4 linked regions of the Homo sapiens genome follow. The protein of the gene in region 4 interacts with the protein of the main gene of each other region in a pairwise test. Each region holds a gene or a part of one and is shown on either strand. Other genes may lie near its edges.

Region 1 (7,684 bases), on a different chromosome or scaffold from region 4:
GAACTCCTGGGCTCAAGCAATCCTCCCAACTCAGCCTTCTGAGTAGCTGTGACTATAGATGTGTGCCATCACACCAGGCTAATTTTTTAATTTTTCTGTAGAGACAGGGGGTCTGGCTATGTTGCCCATGCTGGTCTCAACCTCAAGTGATCCTCCCACCTCAGCCTCCCAAAATGCTGAGATTACAAGTGTGAGCCACCGTGCCCAGCTGCAATTTGCATTTTAGAAAACTCATACTGGCCATGTGTTGGCCAACGACTTCCCAATACTTTTATGATGAGATCAGAGATGATATTAATGAAAGTGGGCTTTTAAAAATATTACAGCATGAAACATGTTAACATTTGGAAAACTGGTATAACTAAATGAAGCAACATTTTGCTTGATTTGAATGACTGCTTTTCTTCTTTACAAAATCAGCTTCACTCCCCCTGCCATTTTCCATTATGTTACAATATCAAGCATGGGTAAAAGATCCAAAGTATAAGACAGATCAATAGATTTTAATGTAACACAGTATGAAACGTTCATTGACATGGCTTCAGATTCCACACTGCAACCAGCCTTTAAGAAACTACCACTTGTGGCCAGGAGCAGTGGCTCACACCTGTAATCACAGCATACTGGGAGGCTGAGGTGGGCGGATCACAAGGTCAGGAGTTCAAGACCAGCCTGGCCAATATGGTGAAACCCCGTCTCTACTAAAAACACACAAAAAAATTAGTCGGGCATAGTGGCAGGCGCCTGTAGTCCCAGCCACTCAGGAGGCTGAGGCAGGAGAATCACTGGAACCCAGGAGGCAGAGGTTGCAGTGAGCTAAGATCACCCCACTGCACTCCAGCCTGGCACAACAGAATGAGACCCCATCTTAAAAAAAAAAAGAAAGAAAAAGAAACTACCACTTGCAGAGTTTTGGTGCAGTCACAAAAATGTGCACAATTATCTGAAAAAGCTATTAAAATACTCTTCCCTTTTCCAACTATATATCTATGTAAGGAGGAATTTTCTTTACATATTTCAAAACAACATATTGCAACGGATAGACTGCAGAAGCAGACATAAGAATCTGTCTCCCATTAAGCCAGAAATTAAAGACATTTGCAGAAATGTAAAATAATGCCACTTTCTAACTAATTCTTTTGTTCTGGAAAATATTTTTATGAGAAATATATAATTATGTTACATGTGAATTTATTTTTTAAGGAATTAATAAACATTTTTTAAATCCTCAGTTTAATTTCTAATTCTTACAACATATGTAATACTATATTAAAAGACATAACTCACATAAAGGAAAGCTCTTCGGGATCATTTCTTAAGAGTAAAATGGAGTCCTGAGACAACAAAGTTTGAGAGCACTGCCTTAGGATATACATGAGACCTAGAAATAGGAAAGTCTTGCAGGATGCTTGCCCTACTCAATTGCTATAGCAGGGCAAGGAGGCTTTGCAGGGAGGGAGGGCTGTGGTGCAAACCACTCCAGTCAGGGCTGAAGGGAAGTCACAGCAGGAACTCAGCGCAATTGAGTGAGCCAGGGAGCTCAACCGAGTCCTGACAAAACCAGGAGATACCTGTTCACAAGGTATATAAGCCAAAGGTTAAAACCAAGAAAGCCATAGGGCAGGGAGCACTCGGTATACCAGGAACATCACCCCCCAGAGCCAAGGGAAGGCAAAGGGACCCTGACCCGTCCCCATAACTGATTCCGTGAGCCATCCACATAGCCAGGGCACCATCTCAAGGAAAGAATCCAAGAAGATACCTGATAACCTAAATATTTGTATATAAGAGAAATTAAACACTAGCCAAAGAAATCAATTCTAGATTGAGCTAAACTTTAAAACCAATCGGACATTTAGATTCTTTCCTAATAATCAATAAGTAAATGCTCATGAAAGGAACCAGATCAGTCATATACAAAAATAAATTACATTTTCTTTGCCCACAAAAGTAATAACATACATCAAAATTGTAACCTTGCTACATATAACTGAAGTTTCACAGAGAATATGAGCATTGGAGGGAAGAGGGAAGGCTGGAACTATGAAGGCAGAATGGCATTGCTTTAGTCTTGATTCTGTTACTAATTATGTGACTTTTCTGAAATGAGGATAGCACCTGGTCTGCCTTACTAAATAAGTGTAGAAAAATCTATAAACTTTTCTTTTTAACTATAGAATGTGATTGCTTTCGAGCCACCCACAATAGAAAATCACATAGGTCATAGCACCTACCCCATAGGCTCTCACATTTTGGTAGGGAAGACACAAGTAAATCAGCAATGACAGAGTGAGATCAGGGATTCAATGGAGGTAGGTAGAGTGCTTTGAAAGTAAAACCGTGGACATCTACATTCAATTCTGGGTGGCGGTCTCAGAAAGTTTTCCCAGAAGAGGTGAAACCTCGATAGTGAAGAGTAGGAGTCTTAAAAGGAGGAAAAAAGGACAATCCAGGTAACGGGAAGAGCATAAACAAAGGGCAAGGAGGCAGGCGACGCAGCCTGAAGTTGTGATAGAGGAGTAGATCCTAATGTGCCTTTTAAGCCAACTGATTTTTTTCTTCAAAAAAAAAAAAAAAGTAGTCGCTTAATCAAGTCCCAGCTCAAGGAGAAGGACCCCAAGGGCAACCCTGGGCACACAGAGTTAAACAAAGAGAAGGCCTGAGGAACAGGATACAGAAAGTGGCAGCGCCGCCAGGTGATCCAGGAGGTCCCGCGAGGGGGCAACGGACACTTCAGGGCACCAGAGTTTGCTCTTCGGCCTGAATTCCCTAGGGACCTTCTGCGATCCCTTGCGGCTGCCGGCGGGGTAGGAGACCGGTGCGCAAAGCTCTGGACAGAAGCAGTGTGAGGACGCTGAGATTGAAGCCCACTCCCCTCCAGCCCTGCCCGAGCAGCCTGGAGGGAAGATGTCCGTCTACCCCATCGCACTCCTCCCCAAGTGCCCACCCCGGCCCACAGCGCCAGGACCCCTAGACTCACCACACCCGGGCCCCGGCCTCCTCGGTTACCATAGCAACGGCGCAACACGCGAGGCAGCGCCTCCTCCTGCGCCGCGGTTCCGGCAGCGCGGGAAGGTTATTCTTGGTTGCAAAGGCGCAGGAAGCCAGAGTGGAAAACAGCCAGGAATTATCTATAATTTCAGTCTCTGGGTGGCGTGTCGGTTTTTTCTTTGTTTTGTAAATTTTCTGTAATAAGGTATTTGTTTTACAGTTTAAAAATAAGTTGTGCATATTGGTTGTTGGCCTGTCTTTGGCTTTTAAACGAAAGAATTTTCTGGAAATATGAGGTTGCATTCTAAAAACTACAAAAGATTGTATGAATAACCCCTTGCTTAATTTTCTAGTTATTGGATATCTTTCTCCCATGGTTTATGGTCATTGTCACCAGCAAGGAGTGTTTCAGGCGACCTCACAAGTGCCAACTACCTTAGGAGCAGAAGAAACTTGGAGACTATATCCCTCTTGATTCAGAAATTCAAGATGCAAAACACAACTTTAAAAGGGGGGAAGCGATGGAGGTGGAGGGACAAGGGGTTCGAAAGAAACCAGCAGGGAAGGGCCAGGCATACCTAGCAATTATATCAATGTTCACATGAATCACACAGTGAAAACAGGGAAGTTTTTGTGCTGAAGGCAGGTGTGAAGGAAAATATTCATTTCTTTACTGTTTCTACCAAGAGTCCACTAAGGAGTAAGTGAATGTTTTAGAGGGGCTCTGAACATCTGTGCTGAAGTTCGAATAGCCTAGTTCTGAAATGAATATTTGACCTAAGGCCCAAGCAAAATTTCACCATTGTTACAGTAGGTAGTCAGGCATGAGCAGAGCAGGCTCCCCTATCCCCCACCAGGAATGTCAGGCGACCATCAGGTGATAGGCAGTTGTTAACTGTCTCTCTAAAATAATAATTGGTTGCAGCCAATGCCAGGAAAAGGCACTCTCCGAATAGATAGAAAACATCTGAAACTGGTTATCAGCAGCTTCCCCATAAGAGCTCAGGAGTTAGGTGATGTGAGAAACACACTCACCTGTCCAAACCCAAAGAATGGACTTAGAGGCATGAAGAACAGCAAAAGAGACACTTTTTAATAACGGTCTTGCAAGATCGGGTGTCTGGTGAGCAGGAACACCCAGTGCAGTTTCAACAAGGAATTTATCACCTAGTGTGCAAGTCCCTACCCTGGTTCCTCATAGGCTGAGTACTATGGGGTTACAGTCTTCCCCAACGTTGCCTAAGTTTCATTATCCCCTTATAAGGTTACATCTTGTCTCCTTCCCCACTTTAAGTTTTGATTTCCCAATGACAAAACTTTCTTTCCTTTTATGGATTAGCCACCCCACCCCCTATTTTTTTTTCTCCCTCCCCTCTGACTTCTGTGAGTCTTATCACTCTTCCCAGATGTCTGTAGCATGCGGCTTGTCACATCTGCAAGGGAGCTGCCTGGATTTGCCGGGGCCTGTTTTCTGAAAAATGGACCACTTAAAAAGTACTTCTTACAGGTGAGTGGGCTCAAGGATACACATTAAGAGTCAAAATGGTGGAGTTTAACTGGTATATGACCTTCTTGGGTACATTCAATTGGTAAGAGAAGAATGCCTCAAGTGTCATGCATAGAACTGCAGTAAACACACTGCACGTGCTCCTCTCCCAAGTGCTAGCAGGCCACTGCACATGTGGATAGCCCATCCCAAGAGAAGAATCAGGGGAGAAGGGACGCAAGACCCTAGAAGTATGCCACCATATAAAACCCTAAGGCCGGGCACGGTGGCTCATGCCTGTAATCCCAGCATTTTGGGAGGCCAAGGCGGGCGGATCATGAAGTCAGGAGACCAAGACCATCCTGGCTAACACAGTGAAACCCCGTCTCTACTAAAAAATACCAAAAAAAAAAAAAAAATTAGCCAGGCGTGGTGGTATGCGCCTGTAGTCCCAGCTCCTTGGGAGGATGAGGCAGGAGAATCACGTAAACCCGGGAGGCGGAGGTTACAGTGAGCCGAGATCGCACCACTGCCCTCCAGCATGGGTGACAGAGCAAGACTCCGTCTCAAAAAAAAAAAAAAAAGAAACCCTAAGTCAAAAGTCAAACTGGACTTGATCTCTCAAAGTCACCCACTTGGCCCTTTCCAAGTGTACATTACTTCCTTTCATTCCTGCCCAAAAGCTTTTTAATAAACTTACACTCCTGCTCTAAAACTTGCCTCGGTCTCTTCTTCTGCCTAATGCCCCTCAGATTCTTTCTTCTGAGGCAAGAATTAAGGCGGCTGCAGACCCATACAGATTCACCACCAGTAACACCATCATAAATCTGAACTTTTGAAATACAAGAATAAATTTGAATTTTTTCAAATGTAATTATTAATTTTTCATGTTCAAATAAGTTGTGGTAATCAAAATTTTAGAGTTTTACATTATAGAGAGGAACAATAATCTGTCAGTTGGAAGCTTGCTCCTGCAGTCACTATACAACACATTTGCTCTACTCAACAATCATTTCTTACTGAAGGTGATGAAGAGCAAGGCTAATTTTAGGCATTTCAGTTTTAACATGCTATTTTTCATAGTCTTTGTTTTTTAATATCTGGATGGAAGATGACTTATGATGCATAACTGTACAAAACTGTACATGATTCTGTTTTTCATTAATCTTCAGGGGATATGAAGAATTCCCAAATAGAACTGTTTCTTGAATGTCTGAAGTGGAATTAAACAACTAAAAATTAAATAGAACTTTTAAAGATTATTTTTTAGTGCTCTGAATGCTAATATTAGAAAGGTAGTAAGACACAATAGGTTTGAGACCTAAAAGCAAAGATGCCGTGAGCTCCACTTGAACTCCAGGTCAGAAACAGCTGCGTGATGCACCTAGGCAGACCAGGTTAGAAACAGACAGGAGATTCATGGCAAGAGTGTGGCCTAGATGCAGCAGAAAGACTCCCATGACACCCTCTCTTAGCCACACCCCCTGCAAGCTTGACCTGAGAGTATTGGAAAGAGCCACTGGATTTGAAGGGGCCGAGTGCCCATGTGTAAGACACATCTCAGCAATAACCTGTGGGTATTAATGATGGAGGTCCAGATAAGACAGTGAAGGCCTGGTGAACAGACAGCTTAAGCAGCAAATGATTAAGCACTATTCAAACCCCCCAGAAATTAGATCCCCTCCAGAAAATTATGGTAGGTGAGAGGTTTCCAAAACTATTGAAACTAGTTTTTTCCAACATAAGAGAATAGGCCCTCAGAATAGAAATTATTGTATAAAAAACTACATTTCTATACTTTTTTTTTTTTTTTTTGAGATGGAGTCTTCTTCTGTCACCCAGGCTGGAGTGCAGTGGTGTCATCTCGGCTCACTGCAACCTCCGCCTCTTGGGTTCAAGTGATTCTCCGGCCTCAGCCTCCCAAGTAGCTGGGATTACAGGCACACATCACCACGCCTTGCTAATTTTTGTAATTTTTTAGTAGAGATGGGGTTACACCATGTTGGGCAGGCTGGTCTCGAACTCATGATATCAGGTGATCCACCCGCCTTGGCTTCCCAAAGTGCTAGGATTACAGGCATGAACCACCACACCCTGCCATATTTCTATACTTCATAGACTGAGTCATGTCCGTTGTACAATGTCAATTTCTGATGAAAAACCTGGATCAACTAGTTGAAAAATTTACTCCAAGGTAACTTAATGTGCTACATCTTGTTGTTTGAAAGCCTATTATATGCTGAGTACTGTGTTAAGTGATTCATATAAATTATCTCTAATCCTTATAGCAACTCTATAAGTTGCTATAAGAAAGTGATATTATTCTTGAAACCGACACTTCAGAAGGTTGAGTCACCTACCTAAGACCACACAGCTAATAGGGCCAAACCAGGATTTGTACCTAGGTCAGTCTGGTTTAAAACACCAGAGGACTGCTACTTGTTAGCTATATGCTAATTAAATATTAGAGAAAATCTGCCAAAAATAACAACTTTATTTCAAAATAATTTGCCTTGAGTCTTTCTGGCAATAATTAGATAATATTAAAGCCACTCCCCTGGTGTGTAACTAAAGAATTATTTCTCCATGTAGCTAATCTCTACAGTTGAGGAGAATGAAATAGTGAACACCCATGGTTTTCACCTGCTGGTCCCTCCTTTTCTGGTTAGTGAACTCCCATTTTCTGTGAGGGAACCTTTCTTTTCTTTTTCTAGATATAGCATCTTACTCTGTCACCCAGGCTGGAGTGCAGTGGTGTGATCACGGCCCACTGTAGCCTCATTCTCCCCAGGCTTAGGTGATCCTGCCACCTCAGCCTCCCAAATAGCTGGGACTACAGGCACCCACCACCATGCCCAGCTAATTTTTTTTTGTATTTTTTGTAGAGACAGGGTTTTGCCATGTTGCCCAGGCTGGTTTCCAACTCTTAGCCTTAAGTGATCCTCCTGCCTCAGCCTCCCAAAGGGCTGGGATTACAGGCACGAGCCACTGCACTCGGCCCACCTTCATGGTTCTTTTGGGATGGGGATATTTTTGGCTTTTTTTTTTTCCACATTCACCATGCTTTTGTGAACCTCAAAAATCTGAGACAGGTATCAGTTGATTTGGAAAGTTTATTTTGCCAAAGTTGAGGATGCACGCCCATGACACAGCCTCAGGAGGTCCTGATAACATGTGCCCAAGGTGGTTAGAGCAGTCCCCAAGGTG
Region 2 (7,025 bases), on a different chromosome or scaffold from region 4:
CAATAACAATAATAATAGCAGCAGCAGATACATTTACATAGCCTTACAATGTGTGAGGCATTCTTCTAAGCTCTTAATAAATACTAATTAATTCAATCATTACAACAATCCTATAAAGTAGGTTCTATTATTACTGTGTTTTTTAGAAAATGTGACACAGAGAAGTAACTGGCCCAAGGACAAACAGTTTTTAAGCTACTATTATTTAAGGGTTTCTATTAATTGCAGCTGAACTTAAACCCAATTAATATGCCCTTAGAAAAGAAGGTTAAACAACTTAATTATATTAATTATGAATTAATATGCCCTTAGAAAAGAAGGTTAAACAACTTTTATGTGGGGTTGATATCCAAGGTCTGACTGCAAATCCCACTTTCTTTGATGGATTCCCCCCCAAGAAACAGGTCAAGCTGCTCTAGAGTCTCTTTCTACCTCCTTTTACTCATGTCCAGAGACACAGGATCAAGCATGGTCTGCTCAGAGAATCAAACAGCAAAACTTTAACTCAACTTACAGAAGACAAGTATCTTGGCCTCTTTCCAAGTTGGTTTTGGGGTGTTTAGATATTTAAGCTGATCAGTGTAAACATCACCAAGTAAACCAGTTTCAGAATTATGATCACTAACCATCTACTATTTGTTACATATCTATCAGATAAGCTTTGCATTGAGGTCTTTAGTTTAAAATATCTAATATCCCTATGTGTTTAACAGACAATTCTATTAGAAAAAAAAACAAAACAAAACATTAAGACAATTTTTTCAAAACTTACCTTGATCATTCTGGATAGGTCGCCAGCATCTGCTAGTTCCAAAACTATGTTTAGTTCATTATCTTCAATGAATGATGCATAATATTTTATTACATTTGGATGGTTGAGTTGCTGAGAAAATAAAACAGGCATCAGAAAGTTTTCTTACTGTAAATATCCAAGAGTCACTTATAGTTTTGTACTTAAGAACAAACTTCACCGTATTTTTTAAATTACAGAAATCTTAACATGACAGTATACTTTTCTTTAGTGAATTGTGAAACAAATATTACAATTATTAAAAGTAAAACTAGGTATAAATTAATTTATCTTAATATTCTTTATTAGAAAGAATATATTTTACGTTTAAATCTTAATTTAAAAGTACTGCTATGCCCAATAAGCATATCAACAGATGCAAGAAGTAAATGATAGAATTAGGTCGCCAACTGCTAAAAATTACATCCTCAAAATGAGAACTTTCATTTAGGAACACTCAATGATAAATAAAGTATCCCTTTTTACTCCTACTTGGAAGTTATGGTTGGTCCTAGAATAACTCCAGCTAGTAGACAAAACACAGCTGGTACCTACTATACTATATCTAACTATTGCTTTTATATCAAATAACATACAGGACTTATTCATGTGAGCCAATTCATAAAATCATCCCTAAGAAAAATTTTACCTTGTAGAAATATACGTATCAGTCCCTACTCATTTGCAATCCTTTTGTTCAATCTTTAAACATATTAATACAAGATGAATTGTTTCTCTGAGAAATTATGCAGAAAGTATGGGTGACTTTCTTCTTTCTACTTAAAGTTTTCGCTGCAAATTTTCTATGATGACATGCTATTTCCACAGTAAAAGTTTACATATATTTAAGCCAGCTACTTCATGTGCCAAGAAATAACTACAACTAACAGAATAGTCAGAAAACATTGTTTTGACCTTACTTTCTTCCTTTTTGCATAAATCTGGTTCATTTTAGGCACTAACACAAACGGATGGCATAAAAAAAGAGCGAAGTCTTAACTAAAAGTTAAAAATACAACATAGGCCGCAGTATTTCTCAAAAGAAACTTCACTATAAAAGAAGCAGTGCAGAAATAACTGAAATCTCAGTCATATTCTTAGTAGATGAGAAACTAAAAAGCTAATTCCTGGCATACTCTTTACATGCACTCTGTCTAAGTCTGGAAAAAGTATTGAAACATTAGAAAATGCATGTGAACCATTTTGATTAGTCCACATTCTCAATATAATACATGTTGAGATAATGCTAATTTGCATTTATATTACTTAACCTTTAGAATATGTCTTGTTGGGGTGGTCAAGAAAAAAAAATTCTTCAATGTTTTATGCCCATTTTATCTATTTCCTACTTTGAAATGAGAAAAAAAAGCTGGTCCTACAAATGTTCTGATTATGTTATTTAACAATAAATCCAAAAAATAACTACATTCTTCAGTATACTGAAATTTAACCTTATATAATATTACTTGAAATCAGTGTAGCATAAGTCTTAAAAACCTTTTTGTGTTTAAGTGTGATATTTTAGTAAATCACTTTTATCACCATGTTATGTTCAAAAGAGTCAACAGTTCATTAATTACCTTAAGAAGATCTATTTCTTTGATGCAATCAGCACGTGCTTTGGCATCCATTAAATCAAATATCTAAAAACAGAACCCAGAATTACTTAATAAAATAATAACCTATGGTTCAAGCTATTGTGTAAATTCATTTTAATACTCTACATGTAATTATTTGTACACTAAGGAATTTTCTTTCTGATTAGCTTTTCTTTATTAAGGAGTTCTGTAGGTATCTTATGTTACCAACATTGCTTACATTTTCAGCAGTCAGTATTTAAAAAATGGATAAAGAGAACAGGTAGATACCCCTTAACACTCAGGTCTTAAGTTCCAATGAACAAAATTAAAGTTGTGATTATTAAGATGATAAAGTAATAGCTAATATATGTTGAGCAATTAATATATGCTAAATGTACTGCACAACCTTATGAGGATGATAATAGTAGTATTCCCATTTTACAGATGAAGAAGAGAAGCTTTAGAAAGCTAAGGAGAATGACAAAAGGTCACACAGCTAATCAACAGAGCAAGCAGAATTCATTCTCAGAGTTATCCATCTAGAACCCAAGCACTGAACCATTAATCTGTTCCATCAAATCATGTCTAAAAGGTCTGATGCATGCATTCTTGACAAGGGTGATATCATTCCAAGGGGGTGAAAATTGGTTCTTTGTGGAGAAGGGTAACAAAATTTTACTCTATTAAGTATAAAGTATAGATACACATACAGTACTACACATAAACAGATATACTGTATTTGTGGAATTAAAATTTCATGGGTAGAGGTAATTAGGAAGAAATGTCTAAACAGGCAGCTTGGGGGGAGGATAATGAAGAAAAGGTTGAAAAATATTAACCTACTGTTAAAAACATAAAAATAAAAAATACAATCAAAAAGATATTTCATGTGTCTCTGAAAACACAAATCTCTCAAGGTTCTAAGTGTGTGGAAAATAACATTTAAAAAAGCAATATCTTAGAGACTGCAAAAAAAATCTAAGTCAGTACTGCAAGCTGATTAAAACCCTAGTTACATAACAAATAAAAAAATTAATGACATTTTTAGTAATCAGCTTGATCAAGTCTTCCTGATTCAGCCAGCTAACATTCCAGGAAAAGAAGGTACAATGTCAAAGGAGTGGCAGAATCCAAGTCTTTTTAATTAAAGAAGTAGTTATTAGACACTACCAGAGAGGGCTGGCCTCTTTACACATGATGCTTTAAACTTCATTGCAATCTTATAAGACAGGTAGTATTGGCCACAATAACAAGATGAGGATTGAGGCTCAAAAAGATTAAATAATATGCTTATGATCATAAAACTAGTAAAGGACAGAATCAGGACTTGAAGCCAGGTTGTTCTAGCTCCATAGTCAGTGTTTTCTCAATGAGCCAGGCTGTCACAAAGTCTAATGCATACACAACTAGCTAATAAGTATTAAAATATATGTGTGTACAAAGTGTAGTATTAGAAACCTAAGGAAGAAATTCCTTCCATGTAGGGTGGCGGGTACCATTAGAGGTGAACCTTGAAAGAATTATAGGATTCTGCCAGTCAGAAACAAAAGATATCTACTGCATAAAAGTAAATATGGAATAAGGGTGTAAAATTACAGCTTATAAGAGGCAACTTTTTCTAGATATCATTCTTAATATCCAAAGATACACAAAGTTCTAATTTGTCTTAATTTAAAAAACCATATGAAGATATTAGATAAGATTATAAAGCAAAAATAAAATCCATAAACTCACTGCCTTAAAGAATTTTAGCTTTGGCTCAGTCCCTTCTATTTCTTGTACAAACGCATGTGCTTTTTGCATAGTGAAAATAGCAGTATATAAAATGATATATATGCTTTTTCACTAACATTATTTTGGTTCTACTACTTCTAATGAAAACTTCAAGTATCAAATTTACGTTCTGCAACTTTTAATGTAAAATATTGAGCACTGCAGTTTAAGATTTGAAAAAATATAAAGCCTTACCTTACTTGATGGTTTACAAAAAGAGACAGACTAGATTACATCAAAGTTTCTCCCACTTAATCAAATAACAGAAGAAGAAATATGTATGCCGGTACATATATTAAAGAGAGTTAACTTCTCTTTTTTCCATTAGCAGTAATTCTAACCATGTCAGCCACAGTAAACTCATGTTAACTACCATGATTTCAGAATGGAACAGAATGCAACACGATGAAACAACAGCAAGGAAAGGAAAAGGGGTTAAAAAAAAAAAAGGAAAGGACTATGAGTGGCAAATCACTATCACAAAGTTCACATAAACTATCTAGTAAGATATGTTTTAGCTAACATTAAGCTGTTGTATACATTAAGCTTTGACAAAATGAGCTAGATATAAATGGACACCAATAGCAGGGGTTAAAAAAATTACCAGTATTAAAGAACAAACCATATGACACTATTTATGGAAGGAAGGAAAAACCTTGCAGAAATTTTCTCCAAGAGCATCATAGTTTTAACTCTACACACAAATTATTAATATGAATAACCTGATCCTGAGTACAGACAAGCTTAAACTGTTAATGCCCACCCTTTCTACATATAAAAATCCATGCTGAATGCCATCTTACTATCAGATTTTATTACAGATACAAATAAGAAAACCATCTTGCAGTCCTTTAAGATGCACAGTGTCAGATGCAGAATGCAGACTGCAACACAGAAAATTAACACGCAACTTGTAAGTGCTACTTGTTCAAAGTGATGTAAGAACCTTAATGGGGGTGAGCATGGCTGGCTGGAAGGGCTCTCAATAACTGATTTATATAAGCAGGAATGCGTAATGCCCTTCAGGAAAATATATATGTGTGTGTGTGTGTGAGTGTGTGTGTAAAATCGAAAGTTCTTGAACTGAAGGAATAAGCTTTACATTTAGCAATTTCACATAGAAATGCCATTCATTCCCCCAAAGGGATTATTATATCAACATGTTAAACAATAAAACAAACACTAATGGAAACAGAAAAATTTGAACTTGATATTAGTTATAGGTATGAAACACACACACACAGACTACTTGCACTTTAAATCAAAATGGCATGAGAAATAACTGATTCTTGACACATCATAAATGCTGATGCCATTCTCAGGAAATGCTATTTACAAGGAATTTGAGATAAATCAAAGATATACTGGAAAGCACAAAATTGTAAGTATATCAGATCTTGATGTAATTCCTGGTATTTTTGTTTGTTTGTTTTAGGAGGCAGAGAAAGAATAATGCCCATATAGTACCAGTAATTAAAATGAAGAAAATCACAAACTTGGAGACATATATGTATTTAATCTCTCAGTAATCAATGTCTCTATGATGTGGAACAACATTTTTAAAAACAAAAGAGGGTGAGTGAGATAAGAATGAATAATAGATGTATAAGAGTTTTAGGAAACCATAACAAGATACAACATATCAAGATAGAAACATGCTACATAGAAAATCTTTAATTCAAGTTATAAAAATTAATTTAGAATTACAAATTGACTTTTATTTTTAACTGAATTTTCAATAATATCAAAAGTCACTCCTCAAACACAGGGAGAAATAAGCATTGATGGCACATCTAAAGCAAAACTAAATTCTGAGCAAAATACATTTACAAATACATTTAACTGGAAATTCAGAAGTATCTTATCTTTCTTTTTCTCTCAGCCAACAAGTCAAGACAAAAATAAATAATAATGAATATTTAGATTACATCATTCCCAAACACAGATTCAAAGCTGTCCGATGATTTCATGAGCAAGAAAAAGCAGTATGTCTTGGGTGAAAATATGGACTTTGTAAGAATATCTTGCATATAATATGTACAAACAAGTCTTTAGGAGGCATCATTTTCATTCAGCTCCACCAAAGTTTCTTCAGGTTTTTAAACTCATTTTATACTTGGTAAGAGCAAGGGATGAGCTGTGGTTAGGCAAGTAATGACTGATAAATTCTTGGTATTCTCTGAATCATTTTAAAGGTTTTCTTTTGTCATCTTAAAATTTTGCCAAAATTACTCATAGCTAATGAAACTGAAAAGGTTAACACTAGATTTCTTTAAAAGGAAATGAAATCCTTCTAGTAACTTAACAGAAATATCCCCTTAAAAAGGCATATGTCAAATTGTTAGAAGAAAGACCATTTAAAATGCAGAAAACAAAGTACTTAAAAATATATACTAAGCAAGTTTTTGTTGTTGTTGTTTTTCTTTTTTGAGAGAGTCTTGCTTTGTCTCCAGGCTGGAGTGCAGTGGCGTGATCTTGGCTCACTGTAACCTCCACCTCCCGGGTTCAAGCGATTCTCCTGCCTCAGCCTCCCAGGTAGCTGGGACTACAGGCGTGTGCCACCACACCCAGCTAATTTTTGTATTTTTAGTAGAGACAGGGTTTCACCATGTTGGCCAGGATGGTCTTGATCTCTTGACTTCGTCATCTGCCCGCCTCAGCCTCCCAAAATGCTGGGATTACAGGCGTTGAGTCACCGTGCCCGGCTCTACAGCTGGAACCTTCCTGTCACTACCCTTCAGATGACTGACTCCTTATCCTCCACCTACGCTTAAATTTCACATCCTCGGAGAGGCCTTTGCTGCACACTCTATCTAAAATGCTCTCCTCCTCTAGTTTGTCTCTAATACCACAGCATGGTCATTTCCTTTTTGGCTATAATT
Region 3 (7,025 bases), on a different chromosome or scaffold from region 4:
AATCAGGTATTTTTTAAATCGCAACAGGAGAGTTGGCCAAATGCATGGGGTTTCTGAGGAACAGTACTTCTGTTTATTTTGTAAACAGCTTTGTTTCAATCTTCTCTCTTTTTTTTTTTCTAAGTGTGCTGAACCATCAACAAGAAAGAACTTGATGAATTCTCTTGAACAAAAGATAAGGTGTTTGGAAAAACAAAGAAAAGAGGTAACTTAGAAATATTCGCTAAAGCCACAGGTGCCATGGATTAATGCTGAGGATAAAATAATGTATTATCCTTGTGCCTTTTATTTTTGTTATCAGGTCACAGTATTTATCTTTAAGATACTGGACTGCACTATTTTGAAAGCAAACGCCTTCTTTCTTATTCACCTGTATGTTTCATACTTGTTGTCTCAGTGTCTGTGCAGTGACGAATGAAAAACGACAAAGTCATAAGTCTGGTAATATAATCCTAATTTTCTCAAAACTTAGATGTTTCCTCCACACAGACCAAGTTACTTTATCCTTTATGCCTTTATCGTTTGTGCCTTATGACCTTTACCCTTTATGCCTTGCAACTTGACACACCTTGAAACTCAAGGTTTCTTGAGTTACTTGAAAAGTCTTTAAGTATAGTTGATTTAGGTGCTATGACTTCATGAACTGGGCATCCAAACACATGGGAGTTAAAAAGCATTATCATAAATAAAGTTTGTTTCTAAAATGTTCCTGGGAATTAATGGGTATTATTTGGAATTTTATTTTTCTGAGCTTAATGAATGTTAGAACCTCTTTACTCTTCTTGACAGAGGAAGTAGTGAAAAGTATAACAATTTTAGCACTCTGTATATTGTCAATTTTGTAATTCCTTCTTTTTTTTTTTTGAGACAGTGTTGCTCTGTCACCCAGGCTGGAGTGCAGTGGCACGATCTCAGCTCACTGCAGCCTCTGCCTCCAGGGTTCAAGTGATTCTTGTGCCTCAGCCTCCCAAGTAGCTGGGATTACAGGCGTGCACGACCATGCCCAGCTAATATTTGTATCTTTAGTAGAGATGGGGTTTCGCCATTTTGGCCAGCCTGGTCTAGAACTCCTATCCTCAAGTGATCTGCCCACCTCAGCCTCCCAAAGTGCTGGAATTACAGGAGTTAGCCACCGTGCCCAGCCTGTAATTCCTTTTCTAATTCATTCTGTGTACTACATCTTTCATGTTCTCTTGCATGGTGCCTTCTACTCTTCTTTGATACTTGAAGAATATTGTGACCTTCTGGAAAATTATTGAACGATGGCAGAGTAATGTTACTATAGTATACACATGGGAATCCCTAAAATGCCAACAGAGTAACTCTCAATATAATAATATTATACAGTTTCATACTAAATAATGATATGTATTTTCAGCATAAGAGTTACCTAGTAACTGCCACTCTGGATTCAGTAGTTTGCTTTTTAATTAGGAGAAAGTTTTGCTACTTTTTAGTCATTATGACTGTCTTCTCAGTGTCTGTTCCCTATAGATAAGCGTTGGAATTTCTCTTAATGCAGAAAACTACAAACTTCCCCAACAAAAAGCCAACCACATATCATAGCACTTCTTCTGCCTTCTAATTAGCAGATAGTCTTAAGATCTTTAAATTATTTGTAGCCTAAAATGCATCTAAATATTGTCCTATGACGAAACTATAATTTCTTGAAAATCTAAATTTTCAAAATGGTGATATTACCTATTTGTTGAGTATTTATTATAAATCATGTGTTAATCTTTTAAAACACATTATTGCAAGAAAATCGTGATCAGTTAATGGAGCCTAGGCTTTGTTAGCATAAATTCTGCTTTAAAAGAGCTGGAAAAAATATTTCATTATAATCAGTGTAAGCACAAAGAAAAATACGAAAAAGTTTGGGAAAAGAACCTCCATGCATTAAGAAATCTTACAGACAATCATCAATACTTACAAATTTTTATCAGATTGTGGTTGGATTAAACAAAGAAAATGAAAATCCAAATAACTAAAAAAAGTTAAAAGTTACTGATAAACTGTTCAGCTGACTTGTCAAGATATACCTGAGACTTACTGGTTTTTCTTTTCTTTTCTTTTCTTTTTTTTCTTTTCTTTCCATGAGATGGAGTCTCACTCTGTCGCCCAGGATGGAGTGCAGTGGCACAATCTCGGCTCACTGCAACCTCCACCTCCTGGGTTCAAGTGATTCTCCTGCCTCAGCCTCCCCAGTAGCTGGGACTGCAGGTGCATGCCACCACGTCCGGCTAAGTTTTGTATTTTTAGTAGAGACGGGATGTCACCATGTTGGGCAGGCTGGTCACCAACTCTTGACCTCAAGTGATCCCACCTGCCATGGCCTCCCAGAGTGGTGGGATTACAGGCGTGAGCCACCGGACCCAGCCAGTAGTTTTTCATATACGAACCAGTTATAAACAGTGAGAGTGTGTTCAATTTAATCATCCCAGCACAATCAGAACTTGATGGAAAAAAATATTGTCTTCATCCATGGCTTCTAAAACCTTAATAAGCTCAGAAAGTAATTTCTTTTTGACCAAACTTCCAAATGGGCAGAAATTCTTTGTTGATTCACCAAATTTTAATGATTTCAGCTCCTGGAAGTTAACCAGCAATGGGATCAGCAATTTAGAAGTATGAAAGAGTTATATGAAAGAAAGGTAAATACCTCTCTCTATTCGGTATTTTCTTTAAAGCCATTATCCTGGTGGGGCCAATTGTGTGAAGAGTCTCATTCATTTCAGCTACAAAGAGCTTTGTGGATAGCCAACTGTTGGAAAATGACGGGAAGGGTGCTAAGTGTAGTATTGGTCTCATGGCACTGAAAATTAATGAACGGTGTCAGTGAGTTGTCTTGAGCAATAGCTAAAGAAAGGTGCAAAAATGGCCCCCAGTGATGTCTCAAGAGTTCTTGTGCACATTTATCGTGGCTCACAGAGTATCCCAGCCTTACCTTTGTCACTAGAAGCCACAAATACACAAAGTTATATGTGAGGTGAGATATGGTTTAAAGTCCATACTGTTTACGCCAGGTTAGCCCTAATTCTTTAATTAGATAGCATGACCTATTTTCCACAAATAGAGAAACAAATGGTGGTAACAGTGAAAATGTGAGTAAAAATGGAGCAACCTCCTCTTCCATCTAAAGCATATTTGCTCTCAAGAAGCTCTGGTGAGAAAGGGGCTTTTGGAAGAAAACCTCCTTTAATACATAAAAGACAATTTATAATTTAAAATTATTCTATTTTCAAAAAGAGATAAAAAGAGCAAGTACTTTCCCCTAAATAATTCAGTATTAAGAAACTTGACCATGAGTATTGTAATATAGCAGCATTTTTCCTTTCTTCCTCATTTTGTTACCCAGAAGTATTGAATTTAGAAGGTGCAGGATAATGTTCCTGCTGCACCAGGCAATGGTCAGGCAGCCTTGCAATATCCCTGCTGGGGCAATCCGGATCTGTAAATGTTAAAGATGATGATCCCAGAGAGAATGCTTAAGCTGCTTTCTCGAACGGCTTGCAGGTGTGTGAAGACAGTGTTAGTGATGGCTATAATCTCCATCTTGGAAGATGCATCCATCTCTAAGATTCTCCCTCTGGACTGTGGCCACTCTGAGGACCTGTCACTCTGTCATCAGAGTGATTTGGCACCTAGTAGGAGGTCAAGTGCTGCAAATTACTGATAAATTAAAGGCCATGTCTGTTTTTCTCTGGTGTAGGCATATGCTACTTAACCTGCTGCCCCTCATTGCCCTTTCCAGACCAGGCTAGGCTCACCTGGAGAGTTGAGAATAGAATGACAAACCTACAGATTCCCCTGGGTGGGGTCTAAGTCTTTTATCCCCTCTGAAGTAGGGGTGGTTTGGAGAAAAGAAGGAAGAGCTGGGTGGTTTGGAGAAAAGAAGGCTGTTTTGGTGCAAGGCCAAGCTCCCTTTGAAACGCGAGTATCCCGATCTGTGTTCGGGACGGTGGGAGCTAGAACCTCTCCTTAGGGGACGTCCTGGGGTGGGGCGTTTCTGCCAAAGTTCATAGCCTGGGAATAAATCCAGGGGCTTGTGAGCTTCAGAGAAGGTATCTGCAGCTGTCTTTGAACGACCTCCTCAGGTAGCAGAGCTGAAGACGAAACTGGACGCCGCGGAAAGATTCCTCAGCACGCGGGAGAAGGATCCGCATCAGAGGCAGAGAAAGGACGACAGGCAGAGAGAGGACGACAGGCAGCGCGACCTGACCCGGGACCGGCTGCAGCGGGAGGAGGTGGGCGGGGCCCGGGTCCTCGAGCCCGGAGGATCCAAATAAAAGCAAAGGGGCGGGGGGATTTCCTGTAGAAAACCTACCGTTTTATTAAAATCAACTCACTACTGAGCAACGACCGATGTGCAAGGGTGCATGGGTTACGCAAGTCCCCAAGAGCCATGAACAAGGGTCACTTCTCTAGAATAAGAAGGAAGGAGATTCTCTGCCGGCTTCCTCCTGGTTTGCATAAATAGGCAGACAGTCATTCCCCAGTCCCTTCCAGGAAGAAGAAAACGGATCCATAAATTTGCTAACTCTCTAGGGCATTTCAGCCTAGGAGAAATTTTTTTTTCTTTTGCTTTTATTCGTATTTATTATTTTTATTAGTAGTGTTCATAATAATAATATGGCAATACCTTGTATTTGTGCAGTAGCTTTTCAAGCTTACAGAGAGATTTATATATGAGGTCTTACTTCTGTCACCATAAATTTATGACATTTTTTAAAGCCTTCGTCCTCATTATCTCATTTAACATTCTTGGCCCACCTGTGAGCAAAATATTATTTTTGCTATATTAAAAATGAGAAAGCTGAGATGTAAACAAATTGAATTGCCCACGTTGATGAAAAAGGACTTGAACCCAACCTCCAGATTCTAAAGCTCTATCAGTCCCTTGCTGAGAACTGGATGGTGACAATTGAGATGACAGCTTTTCCTGAAGAACACTTTTTCTTCCTGGTTTTACTTTCAATTATTGGACTTCATGAATATTGTAGAAAATGGGAGGAAACCTTAAACTCTAATGGCCCCTCGTTATTTTAGGTATAGTAAGAAAAAACAAAGTGTAAAGACTCTGAGGGGAAATCTTATCACTGATATCGTGAGGCAATGGCAATATTTTAAAACATGTACAAATCTTAAGGCAATGTCTGAAATTCGCGCAGACAATGCCAGTCCAGGTTTTCCTATCTTGCTGAGGATGTCTTTGTCACAGTGAGTCAGGAAAACAGAGTTTAGCAACACTCCCTTTCTGCCATGTAGCAGTCATTTCCTTTTCCAATTACACTCTAGCCAGGAATCTGAGTAATTTTTCCCTCAATGCAGTTGGGACCATTATCTTATTGGAATAATTTTCTCTTAAATTATGCTAAATTAGAAAATAATTGGCTTATTTTCTAAGTGTATATGTTCATTCTATTTAAATAAAAGCAAATAGAAATATTTTCCCTTTTAAAGAAAATGAATTACCTAAAGCGGATTTCTTAAATTTAATAATCATATTGGGAAATATTAGTTACTCAAATAACACACTTTAACACATATATTAGCTATTTTTGCATGTCAAGTTACCTATTTTCTGCAATATTTATTTTACTGGGTTAAAATCTCAATCTCATTAAGAATCCAATTTACTTCACAAAATGTTTGCTATCTATTATACAAAATTAAGAGGTAGGAGATATTGTCTGAATCCAGAGCCTGTTGATGTTTACGCAGCTAACCTTCAGTTGTTTAAAACACTGCACTTCTGGATGACAATTTTAGATTGTCATCTAAAATTGGAGGAGTGGTGGCAGTTGGACTAGTTGATTTCTACCTTTTAAAAATAATAATCACAACAATAGAGTGCTCTAAATAATGATCTGTAATGAAAGGTCTTATTGGCCTAAGGATTATTCTCTTTTCCCTCTTTCTAATACAGAATGATGCAGGAATGAGCTTTGAGATATTTAGTATTGTTTTCTCACAATGAGAGTTTTTTCTTTTTAAGACTTTCAGCTATTTTTCTTAATCACTTATCCATCACCTAGTGACAGTATATAAGGACTTGCTTATCCTGCAGACCCATTTGTCTGATAATTGAAAGTAAGAATTGGGAATCCAGCACTTTGGGAGGCTGAGACGGGCAGATCACGAGGTCAGGAGTTTGAGACCAGCCTGGCCAACATAGTGAAACCCCATCTCTACTAAAAAATATAAAAAATTAGCCGGGCGTGGTGGCAGGCACCTATAATCCCAGCTACTAGGGAGGCTGAGGCAGGAGAATTGCTTGAACCTGGGAGGCGGAGGTTGCAGTGAGCTGAGATCACACCATTGCACTCCAGGCCGGGAGACAGTGTGAGAATTCGTCTTTAAAAAAAAAAAAAAGAATTGGGAATTTTGATTTTTTTTTTCCTGGGGTCACAAAATTTCTAAGATACTTCAGTAAATTCTGATAAAAGAAAGATTCCTTCAATCCTAATTCTAGTGTGCATCCAAAGAATATTGCTCAAATGGAACATTAAGTTTAAAGTCTTGCAGGTCCTGTTTTTATTGTATTTCAGAAGGGTGACCCCTCAATCTGCCTGCCATGGCTGATATATCAGAATTCCTACAATATCATCTCATTTGACTTGTACTGACTTTTATTTTCTTTTCTTGGTCTTAACTTCAGAAGGAAAAGGAACGCCTAAATGAAGAATTACATGAATTGAAAGAAGAGAATAAACTTTTAAAGGGAAAAAATACTCTTGCGAACAAGGAAAAGGAACATTACGAATGTGAAATAAAACGCCTCAATAAGGTATCAGTCAGGTCAAGCATGGGAGATTAAAATGAGAAGTCCCTGCATAAAACATTCTTACTGACAGTCGCAACAAAATCTAGGCTGCAGTGTGGGTCCCAGCCTTGGAGGCTTGCACAAGAAATTATCTGTGATTTTATAAATCACTCCTAGCTGCAGCTTTCAGTCATACTTGGCTAAGGAGGCTTTAGAGAATTTTTGTCCCTACAAAGATTCATCATGAGAAAGAGAAATG
Region 4 (7,309 bases):
AAGTGGCTGATGGGGACCACTTCCACCACCTCGATGCCAAAGACCAGCTGCAAGTACTCGGAGGCTTTGCTGAAGATCACGGGAAAGAAGTCCTGGCAATTTCTGAGGACACTCTCCAGCATTTCTGCCTTTGTGACCGGCTCCCTGGCTCGATACTTGAGGAGCAGAAAATGAACCAACTCAACCATCTTCCTACTGATTGCTGCTTGGAACTCGGACTCCAGGTCGGGAAACATTCTTGGCCCCTCCTCTTCTTGGTTGCTGGAGCCCTCATCGGATTGTCTCCAAAGAGTGTAGTTGATGGTAGTCGAGAAGCTGGAGGCTCCCTGAGGACTGTGGGGAGGACTCGGTGAGTCGGCAGCAGGCACCTCCCCCAGGGTAACTTCCACTAGAGTAGAAGAGGAAGAAGCGGTCTGCTGCTCCTCAGTAGCAGGAGCCTGCGCACCCACCAGGCCCAGGGCCTCTCCTCGGGCCTCAAGGCCTTCTTCAGGCTTGCAGTGCTGACTCCTCTGCTCAAGAGGCATGATGACTCTGGTCAGGGCAGCAGGCAGGAGTGCGGGCAGGAGCTGGGCAATGAAGACCCACAGGCCTGGGGAGAGAAGGAGCGTGTGTGAGGCCTTAGGTGAGAACTGAACTGAACCTTGGAGGCTCTGACAAAGGCTTACTTACAGATCTTCTCCTTCAATGCTCCTCCAGTGCCTCGGGTCCTACTTGTCAGCCTGTCCCCCTCAGAACCTGAAGGAGGAAGTGGGAGGGCACCTCAGGGTACAGCCGGCCAGCACATGCTCAGGCTGCAGGACTGAGAATAGGGAGGGTGAGGCCAGGCCCTCTGGAGTCCCATTTGTTCTGGGCGGGTGGGGCCCTTGGTGTGCATTCCAGGCAAACCTTCAGTGTTGGCACTGTCTGCGTCCCCTCTGCTCTGTGACCTGAGGACACTGACTCAGACCAAGGCCTCACTGCCTGGTTCCTGGAGCTCCTGATTCCTGGGAGAGGAATGCACGGGCCTTCAGTGTGCAGACTGCAAGCACAGCCACGGATTCCCAGAAGTCTCAGCAGGGTTGGCCAGACTCCGTGAGGTCCCCACTCTACTTGGGTGGAGGGTCCCCTCTGTGCTCACTCAGGGCCCTCACCTTTCTCCTTGTAGGGCCTAATCCCACCCTTTTGCTGGCTTGAGAATCTCTCATGTCAAGAACTCACATCCCTGATATGGTACAGAAGGAGATGAGGGGACCCACATCTGGCCATACGTGACCAGGTCCTCCCGCGAAGGACAACGAGAGATGTCCAAATTCATTGGAGTCCAGGTGTCCTGGGTGACGAGTCCGCTTGGTCCTCACGTCCACTCCTGGCAGGGCCTGAGACCCTCCCTCTACTGACCTGACTCCAGCCCCTTCAGACCAAGGCCTCCCCTTCCCTGACATCAAAGATCCCAGGATAATGGAGGGACTTCAGCTGACAGCCCTGCCCAGGGTCTCTGAAGTAACCGCAGGGGCAGGGCAGATTTCTATGGGGCCCCCTGTCTGCATTCTGGCCCAGGAGTACCCTCAATCCTACCTCAGGCTCTCCACCTGGATGCTTGGCAGATCCTAGAACCACTGCATCTGTCGACCAGATGGGGGCCCCTGTGTTGACCTGAGTCACCTTCTGAAAACAAGGTCATCAACTCCCTGAGATCTGGAAACAGAAGTGAGGAGGGGCCACATCCTGTTACCCCCACGTGCGTTGTCCAGGGCTGACCCCTTTGGTTCTAGGGTGAACGTTATGATGGCCTCCTGTGGGTTACTCATCTTTACTCCTGCCAGGGACTGCCCTTTCTCAACCCCCAACCCCCTGAAATGAGCAGACAGCTCCTCTTTACACCAACACCTTATCTCCCTGAGGGTTCCCCAACCTCCTGCCTGTGGTACAAATGAGATTGTCACTTAGGGCCATCCCTGATCAGGTTCCCCCAGAGCTAAGAACAAGGGACGGCCAGACTCTGTGGCATCCCTTCTTTCTGGGCCGGGGGTATCCCCAGTCCTCATGAAGGGGGCACACCTTGGGTCCGGCAGATCCTGGGATTCCTCCCTCTGCTGACCTGAAGTCCCAGCCCTCAGACCACAGCCCTCAACTCTCTGTCACCCTGAAGGTGCAATGAGCACGGGGCACATTCGGCCACTGTGCCCAGGATCCCCCAGCCCAAGGTTGCCACTGATCTGGACTCCAAGGTCCCCTCAGTCCTCCCTCTTCTTCCTCCCCTTGACTCCTCGCAGGGCTGGGCCCCAACCCCCTGCTGAAGTGGGTCTGCATCCCTAGGATTCCCGCGGCTGAATGAAAAGGTGGCTCAGTTTGAGACAGGGGTACAGTGGGCCCCCTGTCCTGGCATGCTGGGTCCCCTAAGGACTCCACTGTCTTCCAGGAGGGCCTGGGCCCTTCCTCTGCATCCCAAAGGCCATACTCACGAGACCCAACCCCTTCCCTCCCTTAGCCGTACATGTGAACGTCAGGATCCGCGTGCTTGGCCGCCATTCCCGGAGCTTCCGTGGGTTGATTGCAGGGGCAAAGCCCGGATTCTGCCAGGATGGTGGTGGGGGAGGAGATGGGAATGGGGTTTGGGGGTGGGGTTGGTGTTTGAGGGATGGGGGTGGGGTTGGTGTTGGGGGATGGGATTGGTAGTGAGGGTAGGGGGTGGGTTGCCCTCAGTCCCCTCTTGGGGTCCTGACCTTGATTCCTGGCTGAGTCTGGGCCCTGAGCACTTCTAACCAGCCCTGCCCTGGTCACACAAAGCTCTTACGCCAGAGTTCCCTGCGGTTAAAGCGGCGGGGGGTGGCGGGGTGAGGTGGTGGCGACTCAGCCTGAGAAGTCTTCCCCTGCAGGGTGGTCCAGGCCCGGCAGCAGAGGCAGCGCTGGATTATTGGGGGCCCTCTGTCTGGGGTGAGGCCCGCCTCAGTCCTCCCTCGGCGTCTTACCTTGCCTCCTCACGGAGCCTGCGCCTGCTTCCCTCCGCCGACGTCAGGCCGTTGCTCAGGGCGAGAATCTCGCTGTCCTCTGACCTCCAATGCGCAAGTCAGTGGCGTCACATCCGGGCCCGTGACTTCCCTGGGTTCACGGCAAGGGTGGAACCGGATTCTGCCCGGATGGGGATCTGGATGGGGGGGTGGGGGTAAGCATGAAGATGGTGTTGGTGTAGGGGTAGGGATTGGGACGGGGATCCTGAGGCTGTAGATCCTGGTGGGGTCGGGGGAGTTGGGGGTGGGAGGGGCCTTTGGTCATCCCTCAAGGTCCTGACTTGGATGCCAGACTGAGCCTGGACCGCCATCCTCTGCCGATTGTGTTTGCTCCCCTCAGACCAAGTCTCTGACTCTGAGTCGGCCCGAAGTGGCATTGGGGGGAGGGGTGTGCTCGGGGTGAGATCATTGCCAGTGTGTACCAGGGCTGACAAGAGGGGCTGAGCTGGATTCTGTGGTCCCACTATGTGGGTGAGGGTGGATCCTCAGTCCTCACTCAGGAGGGTCCTCTTCCTCACTCCTGGCTGTTTGATGAAGGAATGGGTGGGAGATGCTCTGTTTCTGTCACCTCTGAGCATCTGCGCATCTGCGCATCTGCACCCCTTGTAGAGAATGGCTGCGGGTGCCAGGCCAGGTGCTCCCTGCAGGGCAGGAGCTCCCGCGATGATAGTGACCTCTGGGAGAAGACGCACACCTTCCCACGGGGGCTCCTCCCCAGCCAGAGCTACACTTGGCAAACCTTTGGTCCTAAATGATTTATTCTCTGAATTGAAGAAATACGGTTTACATATCTTCTAAGTATATATGTAGGTAGCAATATATATATTTATTTCTATGAACTAACACCTACCCTTAGTATGCATGATTCACTCTGATATCCTAGTCTACTTCCATTCCAGTCTTTGTGTTCTGTTGAAAGAATTTTTTTAAAAAACATAATTCCTCTCCCACTCTGTTGGTTTCAGGTTGTTATTAGCAGAACTCTGGAGCCATGCTGCCTTAACAAACCCAATTTTCCTGGTGGACACTGCTATTACCTAGGGCTCTTGGCATCGTGTTTTCAGGGGCTGCCTCAGATTGTGCAATGAAGTGAAGTGGAAAATTCAAAACTTTTATTCTACCCATTCTTTCATCTGCCGTCTAGGCAGGCTACAAACCTCCCCAACATCTCTGCCGCTAACCCCCTCCAACAGACACTGCAAGTGTCACACACAAGTACCAGCTCAACACAGTCTCCAGTCTCACTCTGGGCTTTCCCTGTTTTGTTGTGTAGATTTTCTTGCTGATACTGGTGTTTTACTTTCTGTTTCCATTCTATAAATTTACAGGGTTGATTTGGGAAGCAGAGCACAGCAGCCCAAATTTGCTTGTAATGTCGGCGGCTACAGGTAAGGCACTAAATTGTAAATAATTTAAGCTGAGTTTACATTTTTACACTGTTGTGTTCCCCGTGAATGAATATGTTATACTCCTCTATGGATTTCAAGCTCTTTTTTCCTGAATATGTCAGTATACTTCGGTAGTTGCCTCTATAAACAACTTATACATTTTTATTAGGCTTCTATTCAGGTAATTCTTGGATTTTGTTGCTATTGCAAGTGGCATATTGTCTATCAATTGTTGTAGTTAGTTATTGCTTTCGTGAGGTGAAGATTTTGATTTTGCTGTAGTAATCTGTTGCATACCTCGTTCTGAAGGCCGATGCACTTGAATATTCCGCATACCTTTTCCTTTGAATTTTCAAGATCGATAATGGTATTATCACTAAACACTACATGTTTTTCCAATGTTCATACCACTCACTCATTTCGGTACTTACAGCTCTTTGTGTCTCAATCCTGATTTCAAATGTAGAGATAATAGGCTACATCTACTTCTCGTTCCTGACTTGAATGATAATTCTTCGAACATTTGACATTTAAGTATGTTTGCTGTTGATTTTAGGAAATGGAAGTTCTCTTTCAGTATAGGTTGCCTAAATATTTTCTTTTTTACCATGAATTCATATTAAATTTATTTAAAAAGCTTTTTCTGTACCCGTTGGCAGGATCAAATTTTTTTCTCTTCCATTTTGTATGTAAGGAATCACAATGAAACAGATGTTTTTTCTAATGTTAAATCATATTTTATTTCCTTGGGCAGAGCCTGTTTATTCGTTTAATGTACTACTAATTTATGTAGGATATTTACTGCTGTGTAAGAGAGCTTACTTGATGTGTTCTTTTTCCATCAGGGGAGGTATGTGGTCCTCATCTGGTTTTTAAATCCAGGAGGGCTAGCCTGGGAGAATGAACTGAACAATTGTCAGTCTTTTGTATGTTCTGGAAGAGTTGATATAAGGCGGTGGTTAGTTTTCCCTGATCATTTGGTAAAATTGGCCTCCAAAGCTGTCTAACCTGGAATGTTTGAGGGTGGCTTGAGCTTTGAATATTGTACAGTTTCTGTTGTATAGTTAAAGTTTTCTTTTCCTCTTTGGATCAGTTTGGTTACTGATTTATTTTATTTCTACAAAGTGGTCAGTTTCATTTAGGATTTCACTTTTAATGGCATATTTATGATAAAAAAGTTTTATTAGGGAAAGCCTTCACACATACAGAATAACAGGAACGAATATAATGAACCCAGGATACTTGATACCGAGCATGAACATCTTTAAATACACAGCAAATCTGGTTCCAGTTAAACACTCGCCTACCTGCATATGAGCTGCTGGAATAACGTGGAGTAAATCTAAGGCATTAGACCATTTCATCTCTAAATAACTTAATATGCATTTTTAAAAGATAAGGATTTTTTTAAAACAAAAAGCCGATAGTTTTCATATCTAAAAAATTAAATAAATGATTATCAAATGTTCAACTATGTTACACACTTATCTGGCCAACTTAAACTTTATAAAATATATATTTCTTTGATGGAGTACAAAATGTGTTAACTTTTCCCCCCACTTGCTTCATTGTGGTGGTTTCATATATCTATTATACAACTAGGTGTGTGTGTGTGTGTGTGTGTGTGTGGAACATTCTACCTGCCGTCCCGTGATTCTCCAACCTCTTAAGTTACTTTTAAACTTTACATACATTAAGCTTCACTCTTTGTGCTGTAAAGATCTATGGGTTTTGACAAATGCCTCGTGCCATTGTCTTAGTCCGTTTGGGCTTCCATAACAAAAATAGTGATAGACTGGGTGGCTTATAGACAACGCAACTTTATTTCTCACATTCTGGAGGTTGGGAAGTCCAAGATCAAGGTGCTGGCAGATTTCATGTCTGGTGGAGTCCTGCTCCCTAGTTCATAGACAGCTGCCTTTTCCCTAGATCCTCACATGCAAGAAGGGATAAGGGATCTCCGTGGAGTCTGTTTTATAAAAACACTAATCCCATTCATGAGGACTCTGCTCTCATGATCTAGTCATTCTCCAAATACCCCACCTTCTGCCTAATACCATCACCTTGGTAATTCAGCAGATGAATTTTGTGGCAACACAAATATTCAGACCAAAGCAAGCACGGAACCACCATTGCAGTATTATGCATACCAGTTTCACTGCCCTGATAAATTCCCTTGTGCTTGTCGGATAAACCCCATGGCCACCACTGATAGGTTTTTCATCTTTATAATTTTGCATTTTCCAGAATGTCATATAAATAGAATCTTATACTATGTAGCCTTTTTAGACTGGTTTCTTTCACTTAGCATAATGAACTGAAGAGTCATGTATAACTTTGTGTGGCTTGGAACTTATTCCTTTTCATTGAGGAGTAGTATCAATGTCTGGTTATATATATATATATATATATATATATATATATATATATATATCCATTCACCAAATGAAATACATTTTGGATGCTTCTATTTTTGGTGATTATGAAATAAGCTATTGTATACATTCATATACAAATTTTTATGTAGACATAAGTTTTCAAATCAATTGGGTAAATTGATTGAGTATGGCTGCTGAATCTTGTGCTAAGTCTATTTTCATTTTTTTAAGAAAACGCCAAACTGCCTTCCAAAGTGGCTGTGCCATTTTGCATTTCTACCAGCAATGAAGGAGAGTTTCCGTTGCTCCACATCTTCGCTGGCAATTGTTCTTGGTCTTGTATTCTTTGTTTTGGTTTTCTATGGATTTTGGACATTCTGATAGGTGTGCAGTGGTATCCCATTTTAGTACACAATTATCTAATGCCAAAGGGTGCTCAGTACTTTTATTATGCTTATTTGCCATGTGTATATCTTCTTTTGTGTAGTGTGTGTTCAGATCTTTGACTATTTTCATTTTTTCTATCATTGAGCTTTAAGAATTCGCATATATTGTA

The links.
Region 1: the proteins of MAGEA2B (region 4) and ANKRD45 interact in binary tests that used the Homo sapiens proteins (3 or more experiments, as listed by UniProt).
Region 2: the proteins of MAGEA2B (region 4) and NEK7 interact in binary tests that used the Homo sapiens proteins (3 or more experiments, as listed by UniProt).
Region 3: the proteins of MAGEA2B (region 4) and TNIP3 interact in binary tests that used the Homo sapiens proteins (3 or more experiments, as listed by UniProt).

The regions. Positions count from the first base shown.
Region 1 is NC_000001.11:173,666,837-173,674,520, forward strand, and holds the start of ANKRD45 (ankyrin repeat domain-containing protein 45), read right to left. Parts: upstream 3,016-7,684; 5' UTR 2,981-3,015; exon of another isoform or gene 2,235-2,980; intron 1,572-2,234; exon of another isoform or gene 1,288-1,571; intron 1-1,287. UniProt on the Homo sapiens protein: May play a role during cell division.
Region 2 is NC_000001.11:198,257,983-198,265,007, reverse strand, and holds part of NEK7 (serine/threonine-protein kinase Nek7), read right to left. Parts: intron 2,434-7,025; coding exon 2,371-2,433; intron 884-2,370; coding exon 773-883; intron 1-772. UniProt on the Homo sapiens protein: Protein kinase which plays an important role in mitotic cell cycle progression. Required for microtubule nucleation activity of the centrosome, robust mitotic spindle formation and cytokinesis.
Region 3 is NC_000004.12:121,154,316-121,161,340, reverse strand, and holds part of TNIP3 (TNFAIP3-interacting protein 3), read left to right. Parts: intron 1-124; coding exon 125-205; intron 206-2,588; coding exon 2,589-2,654; intron 2,655-4,097; coding exon 4,098-4,247; intron 4,248-6,661; coding exon 6,662-6,790; intron 6,791-7,025. UniProt on the Homo sapiens protein: Binds to zinc finger protein TNFAIP3 and inhibits NF-kappa-B activation induced by tumor necrosis factor, Toll-like receptor 4 (TLR4), interleukin-1 and 12-O-tetradecanoylphorbol-13-acetate.
Region 4 is NC_000023.11:152,710,322-152,717,630, reverse strand, and holds the start of MAGEA2B (melanoma-associated antigen 2), read right to left. Parts: upstream 3,004-7,309; 5' UTR 2,949-3,003; intron 2,785-2,948; exon of another isoform or gene 2,703-2,784; intron 2,553-2,702; 5' UTR 2,474-2,552; intron 1,675-2,473; 5' UTR 1,555-1,674; intron 984-1,554; exon of another isoform or gene 886-983; intron 736-885; 5' UTR 670-735; intron 590-669; 5' UTR 525-589; coding exon 1-524. UniProt on the Homo sapiens protein: Reduces p53/TP53 transactivation function through recruitment of HDAC3 to p53/TP53 transcription sites. Also represses p73/TP73 activity. Proposed to enhance ubiquitin ligase activity of RING-type zinc finger-containing E3 ubiquitin-protein ligases.